4 linked regions of the Homo sapiens genome follow. The protein of the gene in region 2 interacts with the protein of the main gene of each other region in a pairwise test. Each region holds a gene or a part of one and is shown on either strand. Other genes may lie near its edges.

The links.
Region 1: the proteins of FDFT1 (region 2) and GLP1R interact in a protein complementation assay, tested with the Homo sapiens proteins (one study listed by BioGRID).
Region 3: the proteins of FDFT1 (region 2) and PANX1 interact in binary tests that used the Homo sapiens proteins (3 or more experiments, as listed by UniProt).
Region 4: the proteins of FDFT1 (region 2) and CLN5 interact in binary tests that used the Homo sapiens proteins (3 or more experiments, as listed by UniProt).

What each region holds. Positions count from the first base shown.
Region 1 is NC_000006.12:39,079,771-39,086,792, forward strand, and holds part of GLP1R (glucagon-like peptide 1 receptor precursor), read left to right. Parts: intron 1-927; coding exon 928-969; intron 970-6,135; coding exon 6,136-6,303; 3' UTR 6,304-7,022.
Region 2 is NC_000008.11:11,797,911-11,805,762, reverse strand, and holds the start of FDFT1 (squalene synthase), read right to left. Parts: upstream 3,023-7,852; 5' UTR 2,931-3,022; coding exon 2,832-2,930; intron 2,686-2,831; exon of another isoform or gene 2,245-2,685; intron 1-2,244. UniProt on the Homo sapiens protein: Catalyzes the condensation of 2 farnesyl pyrophosphate (FPP) moieties to form squalene. Proceeds in two distinct steps.
Region 3 is NC_000011.10:94,124,318-94,131,854, forward strand, and holds the start of PANX1 (pannexin-1), read left to right. Parts: upstream 1-4,523; 5' UTR 4,524-4,995; coding exon 4,996-5,176; intron 5,177-7,537. UniProt on the Homo sapiens protein: Ion channel involved in a variety of physiological functions such as blood pressure regulation, apoptotic cell clearance and oogenesis.
Region 4 is NC_000013.11:76,995,059-77,002,080, forward strand, and holds part of CLN5 (bis(monoacylglycero)phosphate synthase CLN5), read left to right. Parts: intron 1-4; coding exon 5-170; intron 171-843; coding exon 844-1,069; intron 1,070-2,984; coding exon of another isoform or gene 2,985-3,013; exon of another isoform or gene 3,014-3,027; intron 3,028-5,399; coding exon 5,400-5,911; 3' UTR 5,912-7,022. UniProt on the Homo sapiens protein: Exhibits palmitoyl protein thioesterase (S-depalmitoylation) activity in vitro and most likely plays a role in protein S-depalmitoylation.

The sequences.
Region 1 (7,022 bases), on a different chromosome or scaffold from region 2:
ATCATGCAGATGGAAAAGGTGGGAAGACTGGGACCTGGAGGGGTGATCCCTGCCCAAAGTCACCTAGTTGGAGCAGAGCCAGAACTAGTATCCCCAGGTGTCCCAATACCTGGGCCAGTCTTCTCTGTAAGCACATGGGACAAGAAGCCTTCCTGGATGTAGCTCTGGGTACCAGCCTGGCATTGCAGCTGCCATCTACTTGGTGGCGAGCACCCTGCCAGGTGCTTTACATGCATTGTGCATTTACTCCTCACAGAACCCAGGAGATGTGCAGGGTTAGCCTCACTTTACAGAGGAGACTCAGAGGTGTTAAAACCAGAGTTACGGTGTCACAGTTTCAAAGAAAAGAACTGATCCTCTCCACTAGCATTAGATGATGCTAAGGGGGTGTAAAAATACAAAAAAACTGGTCCCTGCCTGCCCCTCAAGAGTGTCATGAGATGCCTGCACACATGTGGGCTCATGTGTGTGTATTTACATACATGTGCAGACATACAGAACACAATTCTGGAGCCCTGGGTCTCCTTCATGAACAGATGGGGCTGGAGTGGGGAATATTCTCCATGATCAGAGTCATTGTACTTCACTGGATCAGGCCTCCTCAAGGAGAGGTTGGATGTAGGATCTCTACAGCTTCTGGGCAGCTTCTGAGCAGGGTCTCCTGGACCCCATGGCACATGCCTGGGAGACCCATGGGGAGAGGCTAGCTGGGGCCTGTAGCCAGGCCTAGTCGCAGAGGTGCAACCCTGGTGTTCCTTCAGAAAGGAAATGAGAGGGAAGCCACTGCCCCATTCCTGGATCTGCCTGGGCCGCTGGATTTGGGGAGGGGGTTGTTGAGGATGGAGTCCCAAAGTGCTTCCGACCAGGGCCAGTCTGCAGGGCACCTCCCTCCTGCTTCCTCCCTCTTGATGTGACTCTTGTTTCCAGGGGCTGATGGTGGCCATATTATACTGCTTTGTCAACAATGAGGTAAGCTCTGAGGAGGGACGGTGGGGACCCTGGTGGGTGGGTACCATCAGCCCGTCTGGAGTAGTACAATGGGGACTCCCATCAATCTTGCCAGCTGAAACCCCCTACTCACCTCACTGAGGCACTAGGGTTGAGAAGCCATCTTGTCCACAGATTTGGTTTTCTGTGCATGGTCTCTCTCACACATGAACACACACACACAAGTACATGTACAGGTATACCCTAATGGCATGTGACCCTAAGGAAGACCCAGACTCATGTTAAGGGGATCCTGAATGACCCTCTTTGCTTGGTGGTAGTGACTGTCACTTACAAAGTGATTCAACACACACATACCCAAGCCACATGCTTGGGGCTTTAATAATCACTATCTCATTTAATTATGACCCCCACATCCCTCAAAAAAAAACCCTGCTAAAATTCTTATTTCATATTCCCATTTTTTATATATACATGAAAACACTGAAGATCAGAAAGAGTCAGGAACCTGCCCTAGGTTTGGAAATAGTGGCACACATCGCTTCTTAGCCTTTTGGCTAAGGTGAAGTGTGGAAATAGTGGCATGGCAGAGCCAGGATTCAAATTAATTCTGCATTAAAGCAGAAAGTACCCCATTCTTCATACACACAGGCAAGAGCCCTGGCTCACTGTGGGGAAGGGGGTGGCTTTCTGGTGCTAGGATGGGAGAAGGGGGTTCTCGCTGGCCCCACACACTCTCCTGAAAATGTCTGCAGGACAGCAGGCCTCCCTCCCATCCCTGAGATGGTCAGCTCCTGGGAGGAGGGCATGGCTGTGTTCATGGGCACCTGGAAAAGGCCCCTTCCACCAAGGTACTCAGCTTTGGAATCCCAGAGCTCAGGGATGTTGGAGTCAGCACATTAATAGGCTTGTCTTTTTCTATGGGTGTGGGGGATGCAGAAAGGACAGTGGGTGGGGACCTGGGTGTTTCAAGGAGCTATGAGATGGCTCAAAGAAGCAATGTGATGTAGCAGAAAAGATGCAAGGATGCAGGCTTTGGCATCTTATTTGGTCTGATCTGGGCCCCATCACTTAATGAGCTGTGTGACTTTGCCTAAGTTACCTGCCCACTCTGAAACTTAGTTTGCTCATTTACAAAGTGGGGATAATCCTGTGAGGATTAAGAAAGTCTGAAAAAGGTGCGAAAGGGGAACAGAGAACAAGTCCTTCCTTCAAGGTGGGATGCTGAAGGCCCATCCTAGCTCCTCACAGGTGCTGCTTGGCATGGAGAAACACACACCATTATCTCCAGATGCTCAGTAAGCAATCACTATTAGATCAGTATTCAGTGATTCCCAGAGACAGGGGCCTAAGGAATTTCAGAGGATGCCGTGCAGAGAAAATGAGGCTGGGTGAAAGGGAAGGGAGGGGAATGTTCCCTTGTCCCTGAGGCCTCCCCCTGCTTCTGCTGAACTGGCTACCTGTGGGAAGTGTGGCCCTCAGATCTCTAAATGGGAGGGAAACCAAGGTCTCTTAAGGGTTTACTGCATATAAGGTGCTCAGAGTGTCTCATTACATCCAATGCTGTGCAGCAGATGGTATCCCCAATTCACAGCTAAGAACGTTAAGCCTCAGCAAAATGAAATGAGTAGCCTAATTCAATAGACAGAAGATGGTAGAGCTAGTGGGCTGTGGCGGGGGCAAGATCCCACTTAATGCCTCAGGGAAGCAGGTGCTGGGGAGGTGAAGGCAGCGCCAGGCAAAGAGTGGCCCATAAATGGGATTCTGGCTGCTCCTGGGACAGGTCTTAGAGGACCCAGCGGCTCCGTTTGGAGGGTAGGGCAGGGAACAGGCTCGTGACCCACAGGAGGCAGTCCTGGTCCTCCTCCACTGCCATATCCTCAAAATGAGTTTCTTTAAAACTGATGCAAACGAGGAAGTGCAAAAACCTAAGCTCTGTGGGTGGCCTCCCCTCCAGGAATGCTCTCAGCCAGCTGGGTGATGCGCTACCCAGCCCTGAGCTCTGCTGCTTTCCATTCCAGCCCAGTGGTGATGGGGGCAAGACAGGGTGGCATGTATCCTGTGTGGGGATGAGGAGCAGAGGCCTGTAGGGAGAGACTGAGGCTCCCTGCTGCCACCTTGTCATCTTGACCCCCCCACGTCCCCGTTTCTCACTTCTCTATCCTCTGACACTGTCACTGCAGCCCTACTAGCAGACACGTGTGCTTGGCTTCCCCCCCGCCATTGTGAACAGTCTCCCCTGACCCCTGGCTCAGCTGCCTCTCCAGATTCCATCCTTCCAAGCCTAGTCATCTCATCACCTCCCTCCTCATGCACCACCTATGGCTGGCCCACCTTTGTAAGGGGATAGTACTTCTTTGCCCTTGGAAAAAAACTTGATCCTGAATCACCAGGGTTGCACCTCTCTGACCAGGCCTGGCTACAGACCCCAGCTAGCATCTCCCCGTGGATCTTCCAGGCTAGTGCCACGGGGTCCAGGAGACCCTGCTCAGAGAACGGGAGAACCTGTCTCCCTTCAGAGCACCAGCCAGTTCCTTTAAACCCACCCTGAGACTCCTCATGCCCTGGCTGCTCCAGGCACAAGGACAGATACATCATTGTCACTGGGCCACAAAAGACACATGTGGCTCTGGGGCTAAGGCCTCTGTCCACAAGAGCTGTTCTGCAGACCCAGGGTTGCCATGGCAATGCCAGGTACTTGTGACCTGAGGAGAAAAGATGGCTTGAATATTGGTTCTGTGTGGCTGCCAAGGCCTGCACCAGCTGCTGGTGGGCGTGAGTGGGGACAGGGAGGGGGAGGCCTGAAGGTGGTTTTGCTGTAGCTTGTGCCTGAGAGCCACAGTGAGGTGACTCAGAGCCCTGAGTGCTTGTCCCAGCCCTGCCACTGCCGAGCTGTGTGACCTGGGGCAAGTCATTTTGCCTCCCTTGCCTCTGTCTCCCCAGCCGTAAATGAAGGTGAATGAGCTTCCCAATTCACCCCGAATCCTGAGGCTGGCATGGTGCCTGCTGGAGAGGGAGGTCAGGAGGGGTGTGCTGCACTGCAGAGGTCGAGGGCAGGGATGAGGATAAAAATCCGATGGTGGAGGAGGAAGTGTGGTGGCCTAAGTCCCAGCCCAGGTGCTCAGAATCTGTGGTGTTGTCTTTGTGGGTTCATTTTCATAGCTGAGGAACAGAAGGAACCTGATGTGAGATGCTCATGCATTTATGTGTTCATTCATTTGGTTCATTTAAAACACATGTACTGAGCACCTGCTGTATGCTGGGCACTGTGCTAGGTTCAGGGATGCTGAGATGAAGAAGATGTGGTCCCAGCCCTCGAGGTGCTCCCAGGTGAGAGGTAGGAGATGGACCAGGGACAAGCAGGACTGCAAGAGCCACGCAGGCAGGAGGCCAGGGGTTAGGAGCCGGGCATTGGAATCAGGCCAGATCTAGGTTCAAATCCTGGCTGAGCGACCTGAGGAAATAAACACTCTGCACCTCAGTTTCCTCATCTTTAAATGTGGAGCTACTTTGCAGGGTTGATGTGAAAGTCAGCTAAGATAATTAATGGAAAATTCTGTGCATACAGTAAGTGCCCAATAAATATGGTGATTTTCAAGGACAATCGTGATTACAGGGGTCACAGCAGAGGTTCAGGAAAAGTGCTGAAGGAGATGGGGGCAGAAGGAGACACTGTGTGTCAGCACCCTGAGAAGTCCCATAGGTGTCCCTGAAACCTCTCTTTGGTCTCTGGTTTCCCGGAGGTGTGCCTCAGTTTACCATCTTTCCCCCCCTCTCCAGCGGAAGGGCTATGAAACAAGCCTGGCCTCCTGGCAGCTGCACAAGTGGGGGCCACCACTGGACTCAGGGCCCCCATCCCAGCTGTCAGCATGCGCTCCCTTCACAAAGACTCAGCCGGGCAGGGAGCTGGCATACAACAGGGTGGCTGTAGGTGGTGTCTGCTCAGCCTCCTTCCCTCCCCCACTCAAGCTTGGGTTCATGACGCTGCATGGGACACTGGCGTCATCCTGGCAGGCAGCCTCTGGGCCATCTCAACTCTACTCAGTGCAGAAAATGTTCTTTTAAGGGATGGCATGCAGCCATACCAGGCGTCTTGCTGGGCATAGCTGGATGGACGACAAAGGAGGAGAGGAGGGTTGTTTGCACAGGGGCTGGTGGGGAGATTGGCCCCTTATCCACAGCCGCTGGCATCTGGCTGTCTTGGTGACTTGGCCTAAAGGGAAGGGCCCAGACCCCAGACACTCTGGTGTGGGAAGGGTGGGGACTTCAAAGAAGCTCTGGAAAGCAAATGTATGGGAACATCACCCAGAAGAGCAGTCCAGACCCCCCAGGACTAGCTTGGCAGGTTCCAGCTAGGCCTCTCCAGGGACCAGAATCACTGGCCACCACCGGGAGCCACAGCATTGCCACAAACCCTCAAGGGATGGGGGCTCCACAGTGTTACTTGGATTTGTCTCTTTCTGCCCCAACAATCTGGCCCCCAAGCATCAGCCCTCCTGAGAGGCTTTTCCTGATGGGGAGGCCAGAGCCCAGCACAACAGGGATCCTGGCTGACTGAGCTCCCCTGGGCTGCACCCCCATGGTCACTGCAGTGTCTCTCTAGATGGCATCAGTTGAGAAGCCCTCACTGGCTGCCCCTTCCTCCCTGCTGTTTCCCGTCTCAGCCACATTCCTTCCTTCCCTCCCTCCTCCCCTGTGAGGTGCTGGGGCCTGGAGAGAAGCCCTCAGGGAGTTTAGAAGGGTCTGCTGTAGACACCAGGAAGGCTGGGGGTTGCCGTCCCCCTTCTCAAGCATCCAAGCTGAAACTGGACTGTGCGCTGTAAAGACAGAGTCTCTCTTCTCTCTCCCATCTCCTGTCTCCCTGTGTTTCACCCTCCCTCTCATTCTCTTCCGTTAAATAATACTGTGATGGATTGTAAAAGGTACTTAGCTGAATCACAGAGTTTAGAGATGGAAAAGACCAATTAGGTCATCAAGCTGATCTCTCTCCTGAGGAGCTGCAGAAAATAGGAGACAACAATAAACAATTTTATTGGGATATTAATTTAGGAGCCCGAAGGCCTTGACTTGTGTCTCTTAATATAATGCAGTGGATTTCTTCCCTTCCCCACTAATGTAATAGTGGGGCCATTTTGTTAGCCATTGGTTTGCATGATGGCTTTCGTTTCCCTCCTTTTCCCATGGAAGGTCCAGCTGGAATTTCGGAAGAGCTGGGAGCGCTGGCGGCTTGAGCACTTGCACATCCAGAGGGACAGCAGCATGAAGCCCCTCAAGTGTCCCACCAGCAGCCTGAGCAGTGGAGCCACGGCGGGCAGCAGCATGTACACAGCCACTTGCCAGGCCTCCTGCAGCTGAGACTCCAGCGCCTGCCCTCCCTGGGGTCCTTGCTGCAGGCCGGGTGGCCAATCCAGGTGGGAGAGACACTCCCAGGGACAAGGGAAGGAAGGGACACACACACACACACACACACACACACACACACACACATACATCCTGCTTTCCCTCCCCAAACCCATCAGACAGGTAAATGGGCAGTGCCTCCTGGGACCATGGACACATTTTCTCCTAGGAGAAGCAGCCTCCTAATTTGATCACAGTGGCGAGAGGAGAGGAAAAACGATCGCTGTGAAAATGAGGAGGATTGCTTCTTGTGAAACCACAGGCCCTTGGGGTTCCCCCAGACAGAGCCGCAAATCAACCCCAGACTCAAACTCAAGGTCAACGGCTTATTAGTGAAACTGGGGCTTGCAAGAGGAGGTGGTTCTGAAAGTGGCTCTTCTAACCTCAGCCAAACACAGAGCGGGAGTGACGGGAGCCTCCTCTGCTTGCATCACTTGGGGTCACCACCCTCCCCTGTCTTCTCTCAAAGGGAAGCTGTTTGTGTGTCTGGGTTGCTTATTTCCCTCATCTTGCCCCCTCATCTCACTGCCCAGTTTCTTTTTGAGGGGCTTTGTTTGGGCCACTGCCAGCAGCTGTTTCTGGAAATGGCTGTAGGTGGTGTTGAGAAAGAATGAGCATTGAGACGGTGCTCGCTTCTCCTCCAGGTATTTGAGTTGTTTTGGTGCCTGCCTCTG
Region 2 (7,852 bases):
TAATTATTTCTTTAGCAAAACATTTGAATATACTAAGTGGGATGAATGAAGCCTCAACTTCAAGTCAGGTTTTGCTGCCAAGTGATTCTGAGCCAAACACTCAAAAAATTCTTTTCAGACCATCTTAGAGTTGGGAAGTTGTGGTTAAAAAATCGTTACCATACATACATCCCTATTTTACAGATGAAGTAACTGTGGTTCAGAGGTTAAGTTACCAAGGTTGTTCACCTAACTTAATAGCGTCAGAAATCGGACTTAATAACAGACTTAAGATATTAGTCTAAATAACAGGATTTAGATTGGACAGGAGCCAGATCTGCCTGATTACTAACAGCCTGCTCTTTCCATTACTCTCGGCTTTTGGGTGATGCCACACAACTTGCAGGCGGCATATGCCCGTAGATTTACTGATATGCACCTAAAAATTCAGTGTAAATCAAGTTTACTAAACCCTGAAATTCTATAGCCAAATGCTTCTGTGATAGAAATAATCAGCCCTCAGTATCTGCTAAGCGTAAATTTTTTCCCTAGTTTGCAGAGAGAAACTGGTTGGGTGCAGTGGCTCACACCTGTAATCCCAGCACTTTGAAGGCTGAGGTGGGAAAATCGCTTGAGCTCAGGAGTTCAAGACCAGCCTGGGCAATGCAGCGAGACATTGTGTCTACAAAAAAATTTAAAAATTAGCCATGCATTGGTGACACGTGCCTGGAGTCCCAGCTACTCGGGATCAGGAAGCCGAGGTGGGAGGATGGCTTCAGCCAAGGAAGTCAAAACTGGAGTGAGTCATGTTCAGGCCACAGCATTCTAGCCTGGACGATGGAGTGAGACCCCCCCCTCAAAAAAAAAAAAAAAAAGGCCGGGTGCAGTGGCTCACGCCTGTAATCCTAGCACTTTGGGAGACCAAGGCGAGCAGATCACTTGAGGTCAAGAGTTCAAAACCAGCCTCACCAACATGGTGAAACCCCGTCTCTACTAAAAATACCAAAAAATCAGCCGGGCGTAGTGGCAGGTGCCTGTAATCCCAGCTACTCAGCAGGCTGAGGCAGGAGAATTGCTTGAACCCAGGAGGCGGAGGCTGCATCTAGCTGAGGTCCCGCCACCACTGCACTCCAGCCTGGGTAACAGAGCAAGACTCCATCTCAAAAAAAAAAAAAAAAAAAAAGAGAAACTAAGATAATGTTAAGTGAAGGGAAATGTATTTTTCCAATTTATTTCCCCTAATTAAAGGTTCAGGTATTTTTTTAACGGCTCATGGGGATGTAAAAACTGCCCAGAAAGACTACAACTAACATAACAAATACTGCACCATATTATCAGAGCTAGAATAGCTCAAGTCTCGCTTTTAAAAAAACTCAAAATGTACAAAAACAGTATACTGTGAAGTCTTTCTCTACCCACTTACCATGACCACCCACTTTCCCTCCCAACAGGAAACCAATGCTACCATTTTCTCTAACAGTCTTTCTGTAGAAAGGAAAGAGACATAGAGGAATGAAGTCTGGACCCAAATGAGGTCTGACTGCACTCAGATCCCTTGCCCTGCTAGTATCTTCCTCTGCAGTGCTTTTCTCCACGTGAAAAACTGTACATTCGCTTTCTTAAATTGTCTCTCTTCCACTAAAAAGTAAGTTTTATAAAATCAAGGTCTTCACCTAGCTTGTTCACTGTTGTACCTCCAGCACCTAGAACACTATCTGATATACAACTGGTCGTCAAATATTTGTTAAATAAATGAATGCTATATCTAAATATAAAAAGTGACATCTGCCATATCAAATAATAGAAGTTATTCTGTAGCAAAATAATTCAAATAATGTAGCACCGGCAAAGAAAAGATGAAGAAAACTGAATGTTCTACAAATAGACTGAAGGATGTACCTGTATTAAAGATAGCACGTGAAAAATAACACCAAATGAGGGTGTAGTCTACTGGGGACAAAAACCAGAAATTTATTTTCTAGTGTGTTTACTGAAGCACATGGACACTGAAAGAAAGACTCCGATGTTCAGGCACCTATCAAGCCTCGGCCTGAGTCACATTTGCTACTGTCCTGTTGGCCCAAAAAAGTTACAGAAATCAGCCAGGCTGGTCCAGACCAGAAGAACTTGGCTGAATTTGTCTATTCATTCAATAATCGCGTACGAATAATTTTCTTGTTGGAATAAAAACACCTCCTATGCATTCATTAAACAAATAGTACAGGCATGAGGCAGATAAAAATCTAAGTAAAACCAAGTTCTGACCTTCCACCAACCACCTAGCTAATCCATAGACGTTAGATAACTCATTGGAACTTGGAAGCGTAGATAGGCGATTTTAAAACTCAGGAAGCACCGAGGATGAAGCGATGGAAGGCAGCAAGGCGGGGAGAGCTCCGGAAGAGGTGGTGAAACTGGAGGAGTCAGACTTCATTCCAGAAACGGCCTTCATGTGATGTTATCTGCATAGTTCATTCCGCTTACCAAAAAACTCACTCGTCCTCTCCCGCGTAACCCACCCACATTGCCTCAGATGTGTAACCCTCGGGTTAAAATACCGGTAAGCGCCGATGCTCACGGAGGGGACGAAACGGGGAGCGCAACCACCGGGAACCACGCAAAAGTCGCTCATGCCCAGGGCGGCTTGCGGGGGCAGGGACAGGTCAGCCAGGACGGCCGCGTCCACCCGGGCCCTACAGGGGGAAGGCTCGAGGAAAGGGGGACGGGAACACCCAGGCGTCGGCCCTGCTCGCCGCGCCCCTTGCCCCAGATCCGGGCCCGGCCGCTCAGGCCCTGAGGCCGGCCCAGCGAGCTCCTTCCCCGCCCCGGGCAAGCAGGGAGGCTCGGCCCACCTGGTCCATCTTGGGCATCACCTTCCGCTTGCCCCCGATCCGGAAGCGCACCAGGTTGTAGAACTCTTCGGGGTGGCCAAGGCATTTCACGAACTCCATCCTGGCGCAGGCGGCGGACTCCCGGGCGCGACTCTCACCTCTGCGGTCCCCAGGCGCTCACCGGCCGGCTGGACCTGTGGAGTAGGTGCTTCGAGGGGCTGGCCGGACAGGGGGCAGGCCTAGTACGGCGACGCCCCGCCCGCCGCTCCGCCCACTTCAACCGGCCTCGGCCGCCAGCGGGGCTAGCTGCGGCCTCGTGGGGTGGGCTGACGGGCGCTGATTGGCCAGGGCCGCTCACACTAGGAAGACCCCGGCCAATCAGTCGCGGAAGGAGACTGGCGTGATAACACTCTAGAAGCTCATTGGAGGCCGAGAAAGAGGCCGACGAGCGGGATTGGTGCCCTGATGGAGCCGGGCCTTTGTTTTCTTCCGCTTACCCCGGCTGGGAGCGCGAACGCTGTGGGGACTGGAGGTGAGGCGGTGGGGCTTAGGATGCGCAGGAGCCCAACGGTGGTCCGCAGTCGGGAGAGCAGTGCGGGGCTGCTTCCTCCCCACTTGGTCAATAAGTCGCCCACGTGTCCGGCCTCGGTGGCTCCTGCCAGCCGGGTGAGCTCTGCAGCCGCTCTCTGTAGAGCCTAAAACCGTGAAAAGGCCGGGCCAGCGCCAAGCTGGGCGTCTTTACTGTAACACACCCGAGCACAGCCCAGCTCGCCTGCCCGCCACCGCCATCCAGCCCCAGGGAGCCCCACACACTCCTGGAGCTTCAGCTGCCCCCTCTCTAGTGTTTACTTGAGATCCAGCTTAGTCCTAGAAAAAGGAGCTGAAGCCTTAGAGAGCCTGTAACAGGAATGTGGAAACTTCTCTCATCCTAGATCTCTCCAGCCCTAGAAACTACTGGCTACCCGTCCAGGCGTGGTGGCTCACGCCTGTAATCGCAACACTTTGGGAGGCCAAGGCGGGTGGATCACGAGGTCAAGAGATCGAGACCATCCTGGCCAACATGGTGAAACCCGTCTCTACTAAAAATACAAAAAAGCCGAGTGTGGTGGTGGGCGCCTGTAGTCCCAACTACTCCGGAGGCTGAGGCAGGAGAATCACTTGAACCCGGGAAGCGGAGTTTGCAGTGAGCCAAGATGACACCGCTGCACTCCAGCCAGGCCAACAGAGCAAGACTACGTCTCCAAAAAAAAAAAAAAACCTACTGGCTACCTAAGCCATCCTGCAGTCTGTTTTAACACAGCAACCAGTAATCCTTTTAAAACCTGTCAGGTCTAGCCGAGCGCGGTGGCTCATGCCTGTAATCCCAGCACTTTGGGAGGCCAAGGCGGGCGGATCACCTGAGGTCTGGAGTTCAAGACCAGCCTGGCCAACATGCTGAAACTGCGTCTCTACTAAAAATACAAAAATTAGCCAGGCATGGTGGCAGGCGCCTATAATCCCAGCTACCTGGGAGGCTGAGGCAGGAGAATCGCTTGAACACAGGAGGCAGAGGTTGCAGTGAGCTGAGATCGCGCTATTGCACTCCAGCCTGGGGGACAAGAGCGAGACTTCATCTCAAAAACAAACAGGAAACCTGTCAGGTACGTTCACTGCCCAAAGCTGTTCAGTGTCTCTCCAACAAAAGCCAAAGCACCTATAGGGATCCTGAGAGGCTGCAGCCTTCCACCCAGATTACCTCTCTGGCCTCCATCTCTTATGCTTTTGCTTTCTCTGGCCCTAGGACTTTTTGTCTAGCTGTTCACTATTCCTGCACTATCCCCCAGATACTGGCTTGACTAACTCCTGTGCCCCTCGAGTCTGCTCACACCTCATCTAGACCCACCTGTTTGCCCTCTCTCACATTTCCACCACTGCTAATCCCAGTGGGGGTCTACTTGCCTATATTTACCATATTCTAATACATCATTTACTTATGTATTAGATTACAGAGTGTTTCCCCTACTACTGTAAACTAAAAATCCTAAGTCCCTACCACTGGACAGCCCTCCCACTCCCCACCTCGGCCAAGGGAACCCCAGAAAAATCTTAAAAACTTAGTTTCCAGCCATGACGGTATAAAAAGTAAAGTAGAGGTTCCTCTTCAAAGACTTTCCTCCCCATTTAATTAGGAATAAATAGTAACTTCTCTTAGAAGCAAACTTTATTCAAAGACCTGTGCTAACATTCTTAAATATCTGCTAGCTATGATAAAGAAATCAATGTACTTCATGTTCTTAGCTCTCACAATTTAGCCTAAATATTTGCCCTGGCATGCTTATAGTGGTCCAAGAAAGCATTAGGTCATAGCCTGTTCCTCTTCCTTATTTGAAGGTGTTTCAACCTTTGTCACCATTCCACAAGTTACTTCCTCCTTCCTTTGTTCTCCTCTACCTTTGCCTCTTTTAAAAACTTCTAAGTTGCTAGCCAATCGGGACAAATACAGAACGTGAGGCACCGTTCCAGCCAATGGAAACTAGACACAAGCAGTGGGGTGGACGAGTCAGGTTATAAATGACCCTGTCTCCTTTGTTTGGTATACTCCCATGGCAAAACTGCTGGCGAGTGTACCCTTTCTGCAGGAAGTAAAAATGGCCTGCTTAGTAAATTAATGTTCAAGCGCCTTTTTTTTTTTTTTTTTTTTTTTTTTTTTTTTGAGACAGAATTTCACTCTTGTTGCCAGGCTGGAGTGCAGTGGCACAGTCTCGGTTCACTGCCACCTCTGCCTTCTGGGTTCAAGTGCTTCTCCTGCCTCAGCCTCCCGAGTAGCTGGGATTACAGGCGCCCAACCACCACGCCTGGGTAATTTTTCGATTTTTAGTAGAGACAGGGTTTCACCATGTTGGCCAGACTGGTCTTGAACTCCTGACCTCATGATCCACCCTCCTCGGCCTCCCAAAGTGCTAGGATTACAGGCAAGCCACTGCGCCCAGCCTTCGAGTGCTATTTCTTCTTCATTTTTTTTTTTTTTTTAAATGGAGTCTCACTCTGTCGTGAGGCTGGAGTGCAGTGGCGCGATCTTGGTTCACTGCAACCTCTGGCTCCCAGGTTCAAGTGAGTCTCCTGCCTTAGCCTCCCGAGTAGCTGGAACTACAGGCATGTACCACCACGGCCAGCTAATTTTTTTATTTTTAGTTGAGACAGGGTTTCACCATGTTGGTTAGGATGGTCTCAATCTCTTGACCTCGTGATCCGCCCGCCTCAGCCTCCCCAGGTACTGGGATTACAGGCGTGAGCCACGGCTCCCAGCCTACAAGTGCTATTTCTTTCCAGCACCAGGGAAAAAGCATTTCAAATAACGGGACAGGAGATCAGATAGCCCTCATTGTACCCCCTTCCTTTTGGAGTTCATACACAACTGGCTGGCATTAACATTAAAACAGAGATCATAAGACTAACGGAACAGACTCTGTGGCAATAAGATACCCAATTATAAACAGGACCTAAGGCCATGCAGGCAATGGTGAAGTCAGGCACCCCTACACTTGAAGAATCAACTAAGCTCTAACTGCCACAGGGCTCTTCTTTTTCTCCAGCAGCTAAACGCTGGCCTTGAGATAAGCAATAGTAAAACACCTGCAGCTCCACCAGACAGTGACTAATTGAACCCCTGTTCCACCAGCCATAACTACAGCTTTGACTGGTCAAGAGATTGATCTCAGTAACTTTCTCCTGATAAGACCGCCGACCGTGGACTGGTCTGGCCAGTTTACAGAAACTGTACACTCAAGGCGCCTTCCTGTCCTAAAAAGACCTTTTGACCTATAGGGTGTAATTGTAATGCATTCACATGTTGAGTCTCTATCCCAAAGTGAATATGGGTCATATATTACATACATGTTTGTTCAATGTGTCAGGTCCGCCATCATAAATATTCGTAGCTCCTCTTGTAATCTGTTAAATATGTACGTTTAGCCAACCCAGTCAGCATAAAGCTCCTACCTCAAACGCCTTTTCCTTCAAAGTGCCCGTCTGTGGTCTAAGCTGGAAGCATGCTGTAACCCTTTAGAAGAAATAAAGGCTCTTCTCCCTTTCTAAATTGATAAATCATATTTTTTAAGTCAACACTAGAAATCTAAGCTCAGTGACGACACACCTTTGTTTTGCTCACTAATGTCCCCTCAACCATCTGGAATAGTGCCCAGCACATACTGGCTCAATGAATATTTATTGGGTGCTCAATGAGTATTTATTGAATTGAGCTGCGTATAGGACACGATGGTGCCTAAACAATGCAAAGTTAGTTAACGTGCCCATTCTTTAAATCTCTCTTCCATTAAATCTGCTTCTCCTGTGGATAGCGTTAACAGCCTCTCAGTTTTGTAATCACAAAATCCAGGTGTCATTGATAACGCCCTTTCTCTCCTTATATCCACCCCTTCAAAATCATTCATCAAGTCCTGTGGAGTCCAAGAAAACAAATACCTTTCATTTTAATCTCTCCTCTCTGCTCCATCTTGGTTTAAGCCACATCTTCTTTCCCAAACCATGTTGAAGTTGACTTCCCCTGTCCTTTCCCATATGGCAGGTAGAGTTATTCGTCTAAAACACACACTGGGCTGGGTGCAGTGGCTCACACCTGTAATCCCAGCACTTGGGAAGACCAATGCAGGCGGATCACTTGAGGTCAGGACTTTGAGACCAGCCTGGCTAACATGGTGAAACCCCGTCTCTACTAAAAATACCAAAATTAGCTGAGCGTGGTTGTGGGTGCCTGTAATCCCAGTTACTCGGGAGGCTGAGGCTGGAGAATCGCTTGAACCCACGAGCCGAGATCACCACACCACACTGCAGCCTGGGCAACAAAGTGAGACTCCGTCTCAAAAAAATAAAAAATAAAAACACACACTTGATTATAATCCTTCCATTTTAAATTCCTCCAATGAAATGTCTTCGAATCAATGGATTGATTTAAAGGAAATCAAGCCTTCTGGCATAGAATAAAAACGTCCTTGCCATTTGGCATCTACATCCTTTGTTGGGATTTCAGCCTCCTGTCCACCCAT
Region 3 (7,537 bases), on a different chromosome or scaffold from region 2:
CTTGGCAAGTATTCTAGGAGTATAGGAAAATGAAAACAATAAACTCACACACCTTTATAACATACACAACCAGTTCTGTCTACCCAGCCAAGGTATATTCTTCTTATGTGGAATGTTGAACTATATCTGCCACCCCACTAACTGGAAGGCACCTGCACCTTAGTATTTCTAAGTCCCGACATTAACATTTCCCCAGGAAATCAGACCCTATCAGTACCCCTCAAAGCTCAAGTCTGTTAGTGCAGAGCCATACAACTAATACCCCTACTTATGGGGTTAGGAATGGCTACTGCTACAGGAACCGGAATAGTCAGTTTATCTACTTCATTATCCTACTACCACACACTCTCAAAGGATTTCTCAGACAGTTTGCAAGAGATAACGAAATCTATCCTTATTCTACAATCCCAAATAGACTCTTTGGCAGCAGCGACTCTCCAAAACGGCCGAGGCCTAGACCTCCTCACTGCTGAGAAAGGAGGACTGTGCACCTTCTTAGGGGAAGAGTGTTGTTTTCACACTAACCATTCAGGGATAGTATGATATGCCACCTGGCGTTTACAGGAAAAGGCTTCCAAAATCAGACAATGCCTTTCAAACTCTTATACCAACCTCTGGAGTTGGGCAACATGGCTTCTCCCCTTTCTAGGTCCCATGGCAGCCATCTTACTATTACTTGCCTTCGGGCCCTGTATTTTTAAACTCCTTGTTAAATTTGTTTCCTCTAGGATCGAGGCCATCAAGCTACAGATGGTCTTACCAATGGAACCCCAAATGAGCTCAACTAACAACTTCTACCGAGGACCCCTGGACCGACCCGCTGGTCCTTTCACTGGCCTAAAGAGTTCCCCTCTGGAGGATACTACAACTGCAGGGCCCCTTCTTTGCTCCTATCCAGCAGGAAGTAGCTAGAGCAGTCATCACCCAATTCCCAACAGCAGTTGGGGTGTCCTGTTTAGAGGGGGGATTGAGAGGTGAAGCCAGCTGGGCTTCTGGGTCAGATGGGGACTTGGAGAAATTTTCTGTCTAGCTAGAGGATTGTAAACACACCAATCAGTGCTCTGTGTCTAGCTAAAGGTTTGTAAACGCACCAATCAGTACTCTGTAAAAACACAGCAACCAGCGCTCTGTGTCTACCTAAAGGTTTGTAAATGCACCAATCAGCACTCTGTAAAAATGCACCAATCGGTGCTCTGTGTGTAGCTAAAGTTTTGTAAATGCACCAATTATCACTCTGTGAAATGGACCAATCAGCGCTCTGTAAAATGGACCAATCAGCAAGATGTGGGCGGGGCCAAATAAGTGAATACAAGCTGGCCACCAGAGCGGCAAGCTGCTCAGCTTCCCTTCCATGCTGTGGAAGCTTTGTTCTTTTGTTCTTCACAATAAATCTTGCTGCTGCTCACTCTTTGGGTCCACACTACCTTTAAGAACAGTAACACTCAACACGAGGGCCCGTGGCTTCATTCTTGAAGTCAGTGAGACCAAGAACCCACCAGAAGGAATCAATTCCGGACACACTATTTTCCAACAAGTTCTCCATCTGGCTTCTATTTTAAATTCATTAAAAGTAGGATAACATCATATGGAATGTAAAAAATTGCCAAAACTGAGGGCAATTTATGCAACTGCTGAGATTCACTCCAGATCCTCAGAGGAACTTGCTATGTAATGAAAAAAGAGATACACAATCCATCATCCCATCACAGGAGGCAAAATGAACTAACTTCTAGGCCAGAGGAGAGAGTAACAAGGGAGGGAAGGATTCATTACAACTGGAGGATCCTGGAAGGCTTCCTAAAAAGGGGGCATTTGAGCCTAAAAAGGGGCCATTTGAGCCTATCGGATGATTAGCTTTTGGCAAGGAAAGAAGGGAAATGGCACCCATGATTTCCTGACTCCCAGAAAGCCCCTGTCCCAGCTCTGAATGTCCCAACTGACACATTCTCCCAGGCCCTACTTATTCTCTGCACCTCCCTTGGTATACCCCACTTTTCACAATAATCACTCTTTCTACCTTGCATTATAGTTAATTGTGTGCATGCCTTATTTCTCTTGCTAAGCCATAAGGTCTTTGAGGAAATGGAATCCATTCACTTCATTTCTGCTTCCCCATCCACTGAGCCCAGAACTGGCCCATCACCAGCCTCTAATATATGCCTGGAATGTATGGATAAATGAGTGTGAACTGGGCCAGTTTTAAAAAGTGTTCAGATTCCTTCAGACATTTATTTAATAATATGAATTAAAACATCAACTCTGTGTGAGGCATTTGTGCTAAGTGTTGAGGATAAAAGTGGTACACATGGGCATGGGCCTACCCTCAAGAAGCCGATCACATAAAGTGGTGGCAAACACTAAATAAATGAATAAATATTTGTTGAGTTGCAATGGTGACTATTTTTAAGAAGGAAAAATAGAGAACAATGACAGATGAAATGTACCTAGATTCACAAGGTGCCAGGCACTGGGCACTACCCACGTGTTAACTCATTTGGTCCTTATCACAGTCCTAAGAGGTACAACCTTTTTACAGATGAGAAAACTGAGACACAGGAGAGTCAAAGAACTCCCCAAGACTAATAGCTAGTAACTAGTGTGGCTAGTATTATGGGAGAATTTCACAAAGGGACCTAATCTAGTCTGTCTACTTAGGGAAGGCTTTCCCAGGGAAGTGACATCAAGCTGAGGCCAGAAGGGTGAATAAAGGTGGGCCAGGCAAAGAGGCCACTGTGGGGAGTGTTTTGGGTGGGAAGGCCTGGAGGAGGCCAAGGGCTTAGCTAACTTGAAGAACTGAAAGGAAAGCAGTGAAGCTGGTGGTGAGGTAGGCAGAGGCCATGCTAAGAAATTTGTATTTTATGCTAAAAACAATGTACACTTTAAGTAGAAAAGATGATCCGACTGGAGTTTTGAAAAGCTCATCCTGGCAGCTGTAGAGGAGAATGGAGGGGGACCCTGTCTCACATATTTCCTATATGTGGTTAGGAGACAGGATGGTGAGTTGAATTGGGTATTGGCAGTGCAGGTGGAGGGGTGTCAGATTTGCTATATTTAGGAGAGAGAAGCAAGAGAATTTGAAAATTGGTTATGGCAGCTGTGAGAAATGGAGTGTTGAAGATGGTGCTCCAGGATTCCGACTTGGGTGCACAGGTGGCTGGTGGTACATTTAGTAAGATGGGGAAGATGGAGTTCAGGTTTAAGGGGAAGATGAAGACTGAAGTCCTGGCCGTTATGAGTTTGAAGCCCTATGAGCCATCTACGCGGAGAGAGCTGTATACGCTCTTGGATGTGTGTTTAGCGGCCAGGCTGGGGTGGAGAGGTACATGTGGGAGTTGAGGCTTGTATCTGTGGACCCACAGAGAAGGGAGCCAAGCCCTGCCCCAAGGAGCCCTCATGTTTGCAGGTCCTGCCTGCTTCAAATGTTACTGGTGATAACCTACATGTCACATTTGACAGGGCTTCCAAACTAAGCCATCTAAGAAAGGTCTTATGATTCATGGCTTAGATCCTGTCCCTGAGTAAAAAATCTTACTGTGAGTCCTTCAAATCCTTTTGTCAGTTCCTCAAACTGCTGATGTACTGATTAGTATGTAAAATACTGACATTGAAAAGAACACTGACTTGTTTCTGAATCATATAAACTTTGATTTTCTTGTGCACAAAACATTTTAGCCTGTATGTTGTCATCTGCAGCCAGTGACTGTAACCTGTGTACCATACCCTCCGATGAAAAAAATCCCACCTCTGATATAAGGGGTCCTCCTCCCTTTTCCTAAACTTTCTTCTAAAACCCTTCCAACGTGTAACAAATTTTGAAACATGCCCAACTTTGCTGGTAAGTCTTCTTGGGTGGATCCTCACATTTAGCTTCCAATAAATCAAATTATTTCTACTTCAACAGCCTTAATTTCCGTGGACACTGGTCAGAGTATTTCCTCCTGTCTTTCCATCATCCACTTCCTATGAGCTGTTCAGAAGCAGCTCTCTGCAGCCCCAACACCCACCTACCTGCAGGCCCCCCTCTCTCTGCTGGCTCCCGGAACAAGGCTCTGATTGGGATGGCAGAGGAAAGAGAAACGGGACCAGCAGCGCTACTCAGGCCTCGAAACTCCACACTCACTACCGTTTCCGCGCCACCCTCTCACGCGGAGCTCCTGGAAGGGTCCAGCGCTCCCTCTGCAAGGCACCGTCGGTCTACACCGCTCGATTGGCCTTTTATGGCACTGACTGTTCTTTGAAGCTTTTGCAGCTCCTTCTAACCCGATTTCACCGTGTTGGAAATGTTGGGGGTGGGGCGTAAAGGGGGCCATCCCATCCACAGAAAGAGTCGCTTGCAGAAATGATTTTAAAACTCCCGGGTGCCAGGACGTGAGGAGAATCCGGCAGGGAGGGACGGGAGAATTTCCAAAGGTGCCGCTCAGTGGGAAAATCCCTTTGTCAGAGAGTGGCCCGAGGGGCGCGGAATGCAGCCGCGCCCACCCCGCCCCGCGTCACCGCGTCTTCCGGAAGCTCCACGCCCCTGGGTACTTGGTTTCCCCGCATGGTTCCGGAAGAGCGCGGCGCAGCTGGCTGTGAGCGCAGGGCTATCCCGGCGGCCGCTTCGGCAGCCAGGGCGGCGCGGAGGGGCAGGGCCAGAGGGAAGCGCTTTGTTCCGCGCGTGGTTCCCGCGCCTGGGGGTGCGCGGGAGAGGCGCGAATCCGAGTGCCGCGCGCGGCCCGGGGACTTGCACGGGCGTGCGGGGTGGAACCGCAGGAAGCGGAGCTCTCGGGTTCCCGCCCCGCCCCGCCCCGCCGGCGGCGGAGGCAGCGAGCGCGAGAGCCCAGCGGAGTCGCTGGGAGCCTGAGGCACCGAGACACAAAGGCAGGCGGGATGCGGGAGCAGGCAAAGGGAAAGCGAAAGCCGCGCGCCCGGCCGGTGACTGGGTGAAGGCGCCGCGCAGCTTTCCCGACGCCGGCTGTACCCGGACCTCCTGGTCGAGCCTGGCGCGCCGCAGCCATGGCCATCGCTCAACTGGCCACGGAGTACGTGTTCTCGGATTTCTTGCTGAAGGAGCCCACGGAGCCCAAGTTCAAGGGGCTGCGACTGGAGCTGGCTGTGGACAAGATGGTCACGTGCATTGCGGTGGGGCTGCCCCTGCTGCTCATCTCGCTGGCCTTCGCGCAGGAGATCTCGATTGGTAAGCCTCGCCCAGGACGGAGGGGAGTGGCCGCCCCGGTCTGGCCCGGTGAGCTGCGATTTTACGGCTCACAGGCCCGAGTCTGGGTACGCCCAGCTGTGATGGTCGTGAGCGTCAGGAAGGGCAGTGGCCCCAGTTTTATGGTCCAAAGCGTTCTTTGCCCAGGTGTTTCATTGGTACCCTGGTCTACTCTGCTCGCATCCCTACTCCTCAGTTCTTTTGTTCCTCATGCCCCTCTGATCGGACTGTGGCTTATAGTTTATGTTCCACCCTTAGAACTGGCACCTTGCCACCAGATTTGCCAAGAATAGCTGTGTCCCCGTTTTTCACCCCTGTCTCCTACATATTTGTCCAGCCGCCTAAAATTTTACACCAGAGAAGTTCCTGAGTGGCTACATGGAGGATGTGAAGACCGGTGCTCCATGAGAAGTGTGTTCTTTCAGTGTCTTACATATAATTGGTATTTGCTGAGATCTTAGCTCTCTAGGGTTGTGAATGATAGGAAATATCTGCACTTGGCAGGCATTAGAGGGATCCTCAACTTGGACGGTCTTACAAATGTGAGATGAACAAGTCCCCTTCCTGTAAATTATCATTTGAGCTTCATAACAGTTGTGTGAGATTGGAAAGTCTGGTGGTTTGGGCAGGATCACGTGGCTACGTGCCTTACCTTCCTCATCAGCTGTTCTGACTCTCCACACAGGAGAGAGTGTTTATGAACCAACAGGAAGGTAGCGCAGGAGGGTTAAATACAGTTCTGTGGCAGGGGAAGAGAGAGGACCCAGTGCGGCTGGACTTTGGGAAAACTTTTGTCAGAGGGTGGGTGGGATTTGGACAAGAAGGAGTAAGACCTTTGTTAAGGTTTTGAGATGGCAGAGAATGTTATATGTTCCTGGAAAGAGAGACACAGTGACTCTCCTAGCCAAGGCAGGAGGATAAGTCAGAGTTCCTGGAGTCTGAGAGTGAATATGGGCCTGGGTCAGCCTGGAACAGAAGAGTGTAGGCTGATGGTTTCAGAACTGTGAAGTTATTGTTTGAGCAGAGGACAGACTGGTTGAATGATGGTGGCATTTAGGGTCTGGGAAGAAGGTGAGAGGATGGGGCCTGGAGGGCTGGGTGCCAGAGAGCAAGGCATCGGCTGAGGTCTTGTGCACAGAGGGTGTGAAGAGTGGAAGAAAATGGGTGGGTGATTGCTGTGCGATCAAGGAGTAAATAAGCAGCACTTGAGTACCTAGTATTTAATAGGCCATGAACGGCAGTACTGGTCAAACGTGCTGCGGAGGTTGTATGTCTGGGTGAGTGGAGTGTGGTGTTGGTGGTGATGGGAATTGTGAAGTTGAGGGAATAGTTGATTAGGAAAGAATGACTATGAGTGTGATTTTGCAATCTGCAGCACTAAGTTGTTCAGCTTGGCAGGAAGTTGCCAAATTCATTGTGGAAAATAGTTTTTAGTTTTCCTGCTCTTTGCGCAGGCATAGTCATCGGGATGTTCTTTAAGTTTCCATTTGACAGTGGATTGAGGCTTCCAGCTGAAAGCAAAACCACCAAGTAGCATGAGTCCTGGAGATAATCTCTCCCTTTGGTCAATTCCTCCTTCAGTACTGGCTGTGTGCTGAACTCGGTGCTGACCTCCAAGGACCCGGGAGTAAAAGAGGCATGATCCCTGTCTTGGAGGTGCAAGTCTTGGGTACCTGGTTGGGACAGAAAGGCAGGAGGAAGGAGTTAGTCACCCTCTGTGACCAATCTCCACCTCTAGCACATGTACTAGAGGGACTCCTAAGGCACCTGTACCTGTAATGCCTTAGATACGTCTAAATTGGTGGGCTGTCTGAGAGGTATTTTTGGGGTATTGGGAGTGGTTTTAACTAGCAAGAGTTTGAGCTCATGCTGTGTGCATAGCACTGTTGTGTGCTGAGGGAGATGGGAAAGGATTTTGAGACCTTGTTCTTGCCCTGCCCTCTCCCTGCCCTGTGGCAGTTTACTATGCAGTTGGGCACTAGAAGGTATCTGTTAGCAGGTAAGTCATTCAGCTGTGTGTAATTCAGCACCCAGCCAGGTGTTGAGCTATGAGCTCCAGGCTGGTGAAGGTTGGCAGGCACTTGGGTGAGGAGCTGTCAAGCAGACTCCCATGTTTTCTGAAGTGTTTTCAGGAGTTCCAGGGGAGGACAGACATGTGGGATGAAGCTAACAGGACCAGGGAAGACCTATTAGATTAGGTATACATTTAGATAAAACCAGAAGAAGGGCTTTTGAGAAGAGGGGAGAGGTACATAGATTAATACATGGAGTTGGTACAGTGGGAGGGATCATGTCATGCAGCATTTAATTTTGTGTAGTTAGTAGTATGCACTCAGCCAAAAA
Region 4 (7,022 bases), on a different chromosome or scaffold from region 2:
TTAGGCGCTTTGACTTCCGTCCAAAACCTGATCCTTATTGTCAAGCTAAGTATACTTTCTGTCCAACTGGCTCACCTATCCCAGTTATGGAGGGTGATGATGACATTGAAGTTTTTCGATTACAAGCCCCAGTATGGGAATTTAAATATGGAGACCTCCTGGGACACTTGGTAAGGATGCATCTTGGTCTTATAACTTTGGTTAATTCAATGATTTGGTTATTAAGTTGATTTTTAAGGAGTAATCACTATTTAGATGGCTGACTTTAGATCATGTTGGTGTTTGTCTTAGTACATTTAAAATGAGTAGTCAAAAATAGTTACTATCAGATTTTGTAATCTTGACAACAACAAATGTAATCACCATTATCCATTGTAATATTATGAATCTGAAACCAGCTCCTGTACCTAGCTCCTGGAAGGTGAGAAGAGGCCCAGAAGTGGCAGGGCAGGCAGGTAACACCTCTTGATTTCCATACTCTGTTGTAGTCACTTTTCCAGGTTAACCCATCACCATGTGAGGTCTGTAGAGCTGCTTCCAGAGACTGGCATGGGGGCTCCTCACACTTATTCTAAGCTCTAAGGAAATTATCAGCTTGTCCACATAACATGCAGGCCTCCTATTTGAGATGAGCCAAATAGGGGTGTAGTGGCCAAAGCTGGGGTGGATGAGGGCCTGGAGTTTGGGGCCACAGAGTGGATATGACAGTAGCAGCATGGAAGAACAGCTGAACAGTTGTTCTACTTGATATGCATTTGTGATGTGCCACATTTTCTCCTATCAGGTTACCTGGACCCATGGTTGTGTCACAGTTGCTTTTATACATGTACTGTCTTTACACAGAAAATTATGCATGATGCCATTGGATTCAGAAGTACATTAACTGGCAAGAACTACACAATGGAATGGTATGAACTTTTCCAACTTGGCAACTGTACATTTCCCCATCTCCGACCTGAAATGGATGCCCCTTTCTGGTGTAATCAAGGCGCTGCCTGCTTTTTTGAGGGAATTGATGATGTTCACTGGAAGGAAAATGGGACATTAGTTCAAGTAGCAACTATATCAGGTAAGTTGTGAAAATATAGCAATATTTGATCATTGCATCAAAAACCAAATGAAAGAAATTGTTATACTTCCATTGAAACATTTCAGTAATGTTTTACTTAGAGGTCATTTGTAAAATGTACTTTTGGAACCATTAAACTTTGGGAATTTTTTTCATCTCTTATTTGTATTTTTTATTTATTTTATTTGAATAGGTTTGTGGGGAACTGGTTATGTTAAGTTACATGAATAAGTTCTTTAGTGGTGATTTCTGAGATTTTTGCGCACCCATCACCCGAGCAGTGTACACTGTACCCAATGTATAGTCTTTTATCCCTCACCCCTCTCCGACCCTTTTCCCCGACTTCCCAAAGTTAATCATTCTTATGCCTTTGCATCCTCATAGCTTAGCTCCCACTTACAAGTGAGAATACACAATGTTTGGTTTTCTATTCCTGAAGAGTTACTTCACTTGGATGGAATTGGAGACCATTATTCCAGGTTGCTGCAAATGCCATTATTTCATTCCTTTTTATGGCTGAGTAGTATTATTCCTTGGTATATATACACCACATTTTCTTTATCCACTCATTGATTGATGGGCATTTGAGCTGGTTCCATATTTTTGCAGTTGCAAATTGTGCTGCTATAAACATGCATGGGAAAGTATTTTTTGCGTATAATGAGTTCTCTTCCTTTGGGTAGATACCCAGTACTGGGATTGCTGGATCAAATGGCAGTTCTACTTTTAGTTCTTTAAGGAATCTCCACACTGTTTTCCATAGTGGTTGTACTAATTTACATTCCTAGCAGCAGAGAAGAAGTGTTCCCTTTCCCCCACATCCCGCCAATATCTATTTTTTTTTATTTTTTGATTATGGCCATTCTTGCAGGAGTGAGGCGGTATTACATTGTGGTTTTGATTTGCATTTCCCTGATCATTGCATTTCCCTGAGCATTTTCATGTTTCTTGGCCATTTGTATATCTTCTGAGAATTGTCTATTTGTGTCCTTAGCCACCCCCACCCCGCCTTTTTGTTGTTGTTGTTTGTTTGTTTGAGGTGGAGTTTTATTCTTGTCGCTCAGGCTGGAGTGCAATGACACAATCTCAGCTTGCTGCAACCTCCACCTCTTGGGTTCAAGCGATTCTCCAGCCTTAGCGTCCCAAGTAGCTGGGATTACAGGCGCCCGCCACCATGCCAAGCTAATTTTTGTATTTTTAGTAGAGATGGGGTTTCGCCATGTTGGCCAGCTGGTCTCAAACTCCTGACCTCAGGTCATCTGCCCACCTTGGCCTCCCAAAGTGCTGGGATTAAAGGTGTGAGCCACCACTCCCGGCCGTTAACCCACTTTTTGATGGGATTGTTTTTTTCTTGCTGATTTGAGTTCCTTGTAGATTCTGGATATTAGTCCTTTGTCAGATGTATAGATTGCAAAGATTTTCTCCCACTCTGTGGGTTGTCTATTTACTCTGCTGATTGTTCCTTTGGCTGTGCAGAAGCTTTTTAGTTTAATTAAGTCTCATCTATTTATATTTGTTTTTGTTGCATTTGCTTTTGGTGGAACCACTAAACTCTGACCCAAACTATTACTCATGCAGAACTTCACCTGTTGGTGATGAGTAGCTTATCTCTGATCTTTGAATGTTTCCCTAAAAATGCTCTTTTCCCATCATAAAAATGAATAAAATGATAAAACATTTTGTACAATTAAATTGGTCTTTCTAAACGAAATAGTAAGAGAAATCCATAAAATGCCTGATTAAAGGATATGTTAACTATATCTGAAAAAAATTTTAGTGATGATATTTTTATGTTGAAAAATAATAGCTACTAATATAGACTGGTTCTGGCACTGTTCTGAGTACTGTACATACATCACATCATTCATCATCACAACTTCTGGAGGTAGTAACTATTATTTTGCCTATTTTACAGATGGAGAAACTGAGGCACAGAGAGGTTAAAGTTACACAGCTTAGTAAGTGGGACTCCAACCCTGGCAGTTACGCCCCATTGCCCATTCTCCTAACTACTTTGATACATTGCCTCCCAAAATGTATATGATCTTATATTTGAGACCCTCTTGAGCAGTTTAAATATTTTATCTTTGAGATTTTTTTCTTCTTTTGGATGTATTGGAAAGTTGCTGAAAGTTGGAATTGTGTTGCAAGTGCTGCATTGTTGGTTAGTAATGAAAAGAGTTCAGCAATCCTTTCATTGGTAACTCCTTATGTGACTTGGGTCACATTTTATATCTTATTGGCCCGTTGCCTCATGTGCAAAATGGAGACAATATACCATAGCATTTGAGAAGTAAGGAGCTTGTCCATATGATTTATGAAGCATTACATTATAAATTGCTGTTCCCCAGAACAGTAGAAACATCTGAAATGAAAGCACTGTTGTGACAATAATTATTCAGTGAACCCCAGGACTTGAGGAAGTAATCATGCTTCCTATTTGTATAGCTCTTTACAAATGATTTGGAGGTATGTTAACTCACGGTTCAGTGGAGAGGATAAGATACTCATTCTCTGCAAATAAGGAATTGAGGCTCAGCCAGGTAACATGACTTACTTGCCTCTCAAGGTCAAAGAGCTGGATGTAGCAGAATCAGGAATAAAACTGAGGTCTTTTAAATGTAACAAGGATCTGTTAGCCGAATGCACCATGTTGTTTTCTAATATTTCCTGCTACTTTCTAATCAATGTGCCTTAAACCATACCAACAATACAAAAGTCCATCATTAGCGGTTCTTTCTTTCATTCCAGGCCAGTTCACACCTTTCCCCATTTCCACCTACATCGTTATCTGAAAATCCTTCCTTCTGACATAAAGTCAATGATCATATGAATAAGTGATCACTATTTTTTGTAAAATAGTTCAAAATATGCCAGTACTTAAATCTTTTAAGTCATTTATTTGCCTTGTGAATAATCCTGTGATTGACAAAATAGTGTTTTGAAGCATTCTTGTCTCATAAGGATAGTGGTGGCATTTGAAAGTTGAAGAATGCTAAGAACAGTATCCCCAGTTCTAATACAACAGGCTTTATTCTGTTCTACAATTTTAATTCCATAAAATTGATAAAGGCAGTCACTCTATTCATTTTACAGAACATGAAGTATTTATTTTATGGACTCAAGTTGGAGTAACCAAAGAGGTTTGCACACAGTGACAGGATGCAGTGTTTGGGGCCCAGTTCTATTAGGCATTATAAATGCCCAAGATGAGAGTTGTAACCATGCAGAGTAGTGTTTTCTGAATATTTGGAAAGATTCTTCTGGTCTAGTACAAGATGGTAGAAGAGAGGGTTAGCCATCCTGGAGTATGAACTCGGCCTAAAACATTTCCAGTTTAGTTGATTTGTTGGAAGGACTTAACGTGGCAGGTGGAGAGGTCATCAGCAGCATCCCAGCAACTCCAAGTACAGGGAAGAAAGAAACGTACCAAACACACAAGGTGGATGGGGTATGGTGCTTGTTCTCATAACAGTAATAGCCAGCCTTCTAGAGCAGTGGCTCCTCAGGCAGCCATTCATACTTTATGTGTAGCATGCTTTGCAACAGTGAAGCTCCACATTTCCCACACCTCCATTTTCCTTACACTGTCTTTGCCCATTCTGCTTTTCCTCTTTCGCAATTCTTTTTGTGCTTTCCTTTTCTCTTTTGCCTCTGAATCCAAGATTTGGTGAGTTGGGTAGAGAAAGAGAGCTTCTGCATTTGTATAATTTCGCTTTGACTATAGCTTAAATGATTATAGAATTAGTATGTAAGATGACTTCTCCTTATACACCTATTATATCTAATGTTTATAATTCAGAAATATCTTGTGCCTTGAAGAATGGAATAAAATTGGCTGAGCTTGGATTCCTGTTGTGAAATGCAGGTGTGGAAATTCAAAACCATTGTTTACTCAGGCATCCAGTCTTAATCAAGTTAGAACATTTTACTTAAAATTAATATGATTAGGCCAGCCATGGTAGCTCAAACCTATAATCCCAGTGCTTTAGAATGCTGAAGCAGGAGGATCACTTGAGGTTGGGAATTTGAGACCAGCCTGGGCAATACAGCAAGACCCCGTGTTGCCCAGGCTGGTCTCAAATTAAAAAAAAGAAAAATTAAAAAATTAGTTGGGTTTGGTGGCCAGCGCCTGTAGTCCCAGCTACTCAGGAGGCCGAGGTGGGAGGATCACTTAAGCCCAGGAGGTCAAGGCTGCAGTGAGCTGTGATGTTACCACCGCACTCTAGCCTCGGCAACAGAGGGAGACCTGTCTTAAAAAAAAAAAAAAAAAAAATTAACATGATTAGCTTTGTTCACTAGGTGACTTTGTTTTGTTTTTTTAAACTAGGAAACATGTTCAACCAAATGGCAAAGTGGGTGAAACAGGACAATGAAACAGGAATTTATTATGAGACATGGAATGTAAAAGCCAGCCCAGAAAAGGGGGCAGAGACATGGTTTGATTCCTACGACTGTTCCAAATTTGTGTTAAGGACCTTTAACAAGTTGGCTGAATTTGGAGCAGAGTTCAAGAACATAGAAACCAACTATACAAGAATATTTCTTTACAGTGGAGAACCTACTTATCTGGGAAATGAAACATCTGTTTTTGGGCCAACAGGAAACAAGACTCTTGGTTTAGCCATAAAAAGATTTTATTACCCCTTCAAACCACATTTGCCAACTAAAGAATTTCTGTTGAGTCTCTTGCAAATTTTTGATGCAGTGATTGTGCACAAACAGTTCTATTTGTTTTATAATTTTGAATATTGGTTTTTACCTATGAAATTCCCTTTTATTAAAATAACATATGAAGAAATCCCTTTACCTATCAGAAACAAAACACTCTCTGGTTTATAAAACACCTTAATTCTACTGCTCTTTTTTCTCCAATCACCAGCATCTGTTTTTCAGGGGGTGATTTTACTTTTGTGAATTCCTTAGCCTTTCTTCCTTGGTGCATAAAGTTAAAATGCACATCAGCAGAATTGCTGCATATTAACATCTCAGGACTCTTCTCTTGTAAAGAAGCTGAAATTCGTACTATATTGGCCAAAGTGAGCGAGTTAGGTGATCTTGGTTTCAATTTCCGAGCCTTTGTTAATATGGAGAATTATGGTTCATATCAGTTATGTAGGACCTTTGGACCCAGGGTCCTACAGATAGATATGGTGTGCCCAGATTTTAAAAATACCTTCAAAAATAAAAAATACATTCAGTGACATTTTCATGGTGGGAGCTCTTCTTTCTGATATGGCAGTTACACTTTTTCACTTAAGTGCTTTAGTTTAGACTAACTTTACAACTTCTATAACTTTTGGAACCAAGTTTAGTATAGTCTGATTACATTCCATTCACCTAACTTTAGACATTCGTTTAGACACCATAACTGGAGTGATTGTGCTTCTAGATGTGGCAAATCCAGTGTTAACACATATTTCTGGCTGAGATTTTGGAACTAGCTAGTAACTGGCTTGTGTTCTTTAAGCATACTAACATCACTAAATCTTAGGATTTAGGATTGCTGTAAAGATGTAAGTTGTGTATGTTTGGCAGGTCACATTGAATGGCAGTGATAATGATTAATCAAAGAACAAATGTCATCCTTGATCTTGCCTAATGTAGTTTATGTGCCAAACTTTCCAGGGTTTTGTAGTCACCTAGATTTTAAGCTGATAGCATAGTGCTTCAGCGGTTCTTCTAACCGGGGTATGCAGGAACATGGCTGCAGACACGTTTGGGTAAACAGGCACCTTCTGACTTCTTCATTGTTTCCTGTAGTTCTCCCTCTTCCCACAAAGCTGTCAGCGCAGTGGAAGAGGTTGCACTTCTCCGAGAGAGGACAGGTTTCTGTTAAGATCACCAAGTAGCTGTGCTTTAATTAGAGCCAGACAAGCTTTCAAGGTCCTTTAAGTATTTGATGATCAACTGAACACGTTTCTATTCAAGGAGAAAACACCATTCAGTAAGA